Linked DNA regions of Homo sapiens: region 1 is linked to region 2. The links come from fine-mapping of genetic effects on gene expression. Tissue or cell type: whole blood. Region 2 holds a variant in brackets; the other region holds the start of a gene. All regions are shown on one strand. Distances are from middle to middle.

Region 1 (2,804 bases), 24 kb after region 2:
TGTCTGCACATGCCCATGAAGCCAGCCCACCTGCCACTGTTACTCAAGGCAGTGAAAATTCCTTTACATAGGAAGTGCTTCTAATTATAAATACTTAATAGATAGTTACGGGGAATTGGTCTTGGAACCTCTGCATTCGGCTCTCGAAAATCAGCCCTCCCATTCATCTTTCCTGTATCAAAAACATTACATATTAAGTATTAGAAACTATCACTAGATAGGTCAAAGTAAATCAAGACGTATGATATAGTAAAACTACTAGTCTACACAGCAATCAATCAACAAATATTTATTAAACACTACTATATCTTACGTACTCCACATGTAAATAGCTAGATGAAAAAGTAACAGACCTACTGATTAATTTGGAACTCACTATTCAGGTTAAGTCCCTTAATTGAAAAAGCATATGCGTTTTATAAGTTTATAATTTTTTTTACTATCAAGATATCAATAAAATAACAGACATATTTTTTCCTCCTGGAAGTGGGTTCTTTCACATCCTATGTTTTGGTCGTTTCTCGAATCTATGCCCAATGATTAGGATAATTCCCCAAAATAGAAGAGAAAAAAAATTTCAAGTCATTTCTGAGCTTCCATATTAAAAAATGAAATAATCATCAGAAACATTCAACCTCTCCCACAAAGGAGCACTCCAAAATTATGGAATAACAAAGACGACATATCCTTCTCCCTGTGAGGTAAAACTAACAGCAAATTCTGTATCTCCAAATTTCCTTCCACCCCAAGAATATAAGAAAAAAATGCATAAAATTCCAAGAATATACATTTTTTATTTGGTTCTTTTTTTAAAAACTCATATATTGGGACTCAGACCAACAGATCAAGTAACCGTATTTTACAGAACGTTTACGTGGGATCATGATTATTCTCATTTTAAAAACAATTTGCATGGAAACAGGAAATGGCATACACAATGAGGACAGCAACTGAGCCCTTCCATAATTCATTCAGTCAATAAGCCATGAAGGCCTACTACATGCCAACCCCTTAATTAGAGAAAAGAAATAAAAAAGGTCAGCTGAATTCATGGATGGATGGAGCCTGCTGAATAAACTACCTTTACCCTACAACCGTATGAGAAAAAATGAAACCCTCTTATTTCCCATAACGGCATCCTTCCTAGAAACACCAGGAAGACTGTCAGGGCTGACACGGCGCTTAAGACAATACCATTTTAAGTTCTTTACACAAAACAACGCTGGATTAAAGCCTAAGCGGCCTACAACCGCTGATTACCGCACTCCATCCTCCACCCAGTGTCCGTCTCCCACCTGCCGTTACAGACTGAGCAGCAACCCCACACGCATCCGTGACCACGAACTTCCCCAGCTCACACCCCCAGAAGCACTCCGTCGCCTCCCGCAGTCACCGGCACTCAGGAGGCCGAGACCCGAGCGCGATCTGTCCACCCTCACAGGCAGGAAAATGGCGGAAGGTGCGAAAGTCGTGGATGGCCGCAAAGGTGGTGAGGGGATACGCGGAGGGCAACAACGGGGCTGTTTGCGTCACCTCACCCACCTCCCGACGACAGCAGCAGGCGACTGCAAGGAAAACCAAGCGATCAGGGGCAGAAGGCCCGGAGGGTGGACTCGAGAGGGGGCAGGGAGGGAGAAAAGTGCAAGGTACCGCGGGGAGGGGGAGGGGTAGAACAGCCGCAAGAAGTCATCCAGACAGGGGCTCAAAATGACCGCGACCCGGAGGCACTGTATACTTACGGCAGGAAATGACGTCAGACCTCACTGCGGGTCTGAGAGCCAGCAGCCTAGGAATAGACGCATGCGTATACTCGTCCCTTTGCCCTTTCAGGCAGCTGCGGCCACGAGCCGCACTGCGACTGCGCAGGCGACAGCGGCGGACCAAGAACCCTGCCCCGCCCCTTCCCTGGATGGCGGGGAAGGGGGTTGGGAGTAGGCTTGACTTTGGGCTGTTGTGATGCACCTCTCTGGTCTTCTCGTGGCGGCTGGCGGGAACGTTCCGGAACCCTCTGTTGTCCCTCTTTTGAGAGCGACTTTATAAATTATCTCTTTTATGAGATAATTTCATTCTTTGAGCCTGTAGGCTAAGTAGTAGAAAGTAATTTTTAAGCATGCATACCTGGTTATTTGTCACACCCTCTTGATCCAAGTTTCCAACAAGTTCTACAACCTCTGGCAGGGTACCGTGATCTCTCTGAGGCTACGGTTTTTCTCACCTGAAAAGTGGAATTACATATAGGGTTGTTAGAATTAAAACAACACATCACTGTCTATTAATGAGGGGGCTCACGACTTCTACACATCAGACATGGTGCTGCCACACCCAGCCAATCAGCATTTTACTCATTTTCATACATTCCTTCCTGAAGTATTTATTAGTGCCATGTACTGCAAGTTATTAGTGACTAAACAGTGGGCAAATCCAGTCCTACTATTTGTCAACCCCTCAAAGCCTCTCAGGTTTCTCATCTCTTTCTGAGCCCCTTTGCCACTTTATCATTTAACATTTATTCTCCCGAAGACATACTTAAGGGAGACAGTCACGTGAAACGAATCCAACGCTGTGTTTCCTTCCTTGGAGTCTTTTGATAGCTCCAGTCATGCACCGAATATAAGGCCCATCATGGCCTGGTGGTGCCTGTGCCTTTTGAGCGTCACTTTCTTCTATTTCAGGGTTCACTAACAAGAAACAGCCTGGAGGTCTTTGCCCTCAGTGTTCTCTGTGCACTGTTTCCCCAGTACAACTCTACTCCCTGCTTTGTCAATTCTAACGATATTTCAAAATTCTGCTTTTACATCACCACC
Region 2 (2,804 bases):
AAAACAACAAACAGTTAATAAATGGTAATAAAAGGATTTGTATAACTCTAAAGCAACTAAATTTTACAAATGCTCCTTACAAAAGGAGCTACAATCAAAATAGAATAAAGAATCAAATTATTACCACCATTTCACAGGTACTATACTTTCACCAAGATAATCATCAAACTGAAATCTACTTCCACCCATATTTTTAAGCTTTTATTTCTAAAAATTAAAATGGACATCAAAAATTTTAAAAACTAAACCACAGCCAGAAGAAAAATATGTATCATAATATATAACAGTACAATTTAAACTCATTAAAATACCAGTGTTTTAAACTGGAGTTACTCATACTGTATACAGAATTAAAAGAGAAATATATTCTACTAGGGACAACTGAATAAAACTTGACATAGCATAGATTTTACTCAATATATAGTTAAATAGTCCTATAACCACAGACTCTATGAAAACAACTCCAGCTATTTTCAAAAATCATTTATTTTACCTTTTTACAAAATTTAAACAAAAATACTGAAAATAGGCCAGGCACAATGGCTCACAACTATAATCCCAGCACTTTGGAAGGCCGAGGCGGGCGGATCACCTGAGGTCAGGAGTTCAAGACCAGCCTGGCCAACAAGAAACCTCATCTCTACTAAAAACACAAAATTAGTTGGGCGTGGTGGCACACACCTGTAATCCTAACTACTAAGGAGGCTGAGGCAGAATCGCTTGAACCCAGGAGGCGGAGGTTGCAGTGAGCTGAGATCGCGCCATTGCACTCCAGCCTGGGCAACAAGAGCAAAACTCTGTCTCAAAAAAAAAGGAAAAAAAGTTGAAAATAATTACTTGAAAAGTATAAAACATAGCCTTTAATCAGAATATGTGTTGTTTTCATTCCAGTCTAACAGATGCAATGTTGATGCAGAAGAAAGTATCAACTGTTATTTTGGCCTGGGAACTAACATTTATTCTTTATTTCTCCCAAAGAGAGTCAAAATGTGAATATTACATATTATCATAGAGTCAAATGTAAATATAATGCAGTGGTTACTCCTAATATTGGTTGACAGGATCAAATAGTGAACATAGTTTATACAATTTATAAACAGCAAAAAAGGCCATATGAACATTAAAAAAAAAAGATGCTAACATTCAGTGAACAACTACTTAACTTACAAAGTCTTACCTACCACATACCACACCAAAAGTACTGTTTTTCAAAGATGTTTTCAATAAGACATACAAATTGGGCATATACTTTTAATATTAACTTTTTAAAAAATAATTTTTGTGATACTTATTTAGAACTCAAAGGTAGGATCCCAGTGAATAATCAGAATTTTCTAAGCAAC[A/G]TAACTATACATTAAATAATGTTTTCAACCATAAACTTTTTTTTTTTTTTTTGAGACAGAGTCTCACTCTGTTACCCAGGCTGGAGCACAGGGGCACAATCTCGACTCACTGAAACCTCCCCCTGCCAGGTTCCAGTGATTGTCCTGCCTGAGCCTCCCAAGTAGCTGGGATTATAGGCATGTGCCACTATGCCCAGCTAATTTTGCATTTTTAGTAGAGACAGGGTTTCGCCATATTGGTCAGGCTGGTCTTGAACTCTGACCTCAGGTGATCCACCCGCCTCGGCCTCCCAAAGTGCTGGGATTACAGGCATGAGCCACTGCACCCAGCCATTTTCAACCATAAACATTTATTCTGCTAAATAAATATATACTATACTTATATAAAGCAAAGAGGATTTAAATTTCTCCTAATTAGTTCTAGTATTATATGATGGTTCAAAACTACATTTTTCTTACTAAAAAAAGAATGTAAAGAAAAATATTATAACCTTATATTGGGATTAAAACACTTTGCATTTCATTAGTAATAAGTAATTACTGAACTCATTTCCCTTCACCATATATGTTATATTAAAAATTCTGAAGGAAATCGTGTGTACTTCAGGAACCTTGGGTTCTTAACCCCACTCTGCTGACAATTAGGAAATGTCCTTGGGCAAATCACTAAGCTTCTTTGAATCCTGGTTTTCTCAATTGCGAAATATGGTAGTTTGAGCAGATGATCTCTGAAGTTCCTTCCAGGTCTAATACTTTTTCTTATAAAAAATATTTTACCATTATAAAATTCTGGAACAAATAATGAAAATATACATCAGACAGAAGAAGACTGGGGAGAATTTCCCACACTATGGAGAGAACATGATTTACTATTTTGGGAAGGTTATAAAGAACTGGAAGGAATAAAAAAATGTAAAGTGGCACTGATTTAAATCTAACTGTAATAAACTCTAAGTCTCCTAACAGCTCTGAAGGAGTGCTTGCTATTTTAAAAGATTAATAACTCTCTGAATTCCTGGTAAAAGAAAGCAGAACTAAAGTAGGACTTAAACCAAAGAATAAGATGCCCTGGTAGGGGAGGATAGCATCTGGGGCAAAGCAAAAGCAGGCCACTGCTGGCCCATGTGGAGAGCAGTAAAAAAGTAGCCACTTTGATTTAGAGAAGGGGGTCAGAAGGCAGAGCAGTGGATGGATGGATGGCTGCTGTGGAAGGCATAAAATAATATTAAGACATGGCCTTGCTAAGTAGTCTGTGGGTAGATACCAAAGGGCTTTTTGTTTGTTGGCTTTTGTATGGAAAAAAACTATATAACAGAATTTCCTAATGCAAATGGTGGGGAAGATGCAAGTCATCACAAGGAAAGAGTTAGTGCATGTCTAGAATACAGTAGTGCCCCCTTATCTGTGGTTTCGCTTTCCAGGGTTTCAGTTACCTGCAGTCAACCATGGTCTGAAAATATT

Evidence for each region. PIP is the estimated chance that this variant, and not a neighbour inherited with it, causes the effect.
Region 1: it holds the start of OCIAD1, and the variant in region 2 is fine-mapped to the expression of OCIAD1 in whole blood (TOPMed, PIP above 0.99).

What each region holds. Positions count from the first base shown.
Region 1 is chr4:48,829,988-48,832,791 of GRCh38, reverse strand. It overlaps OCIAD1 (OCIA domain containing 1), which reads right to left and starts at 1,704. Exons shown (of 9, transcript NM_017830.4): 1 at 1,543-1,704; 2 at 110-172. The coding sequence starts at 167. RefSeq lists enhancers at 788-1,350, 1,351-1,914, 1,757-2,136.
Region 2 is chr4:48,854,407-48,857,210 of GRCh38, reverse strand. All of the region lies in intron 7 of OCIAD1 (OCIA domain containing 1), which reads right to left. All of the region lies in intron 1 of OCIAD1-AS1 (OCIAD1 antisense RNA 1), which reads left to right. Among named protein-coding and RNA genes, the nearest start is that of OCIAD1-AS1, 4.4 kb to the left of the region's middle. The variant A/G (reference allele first, on the strand shown) is at 1,344.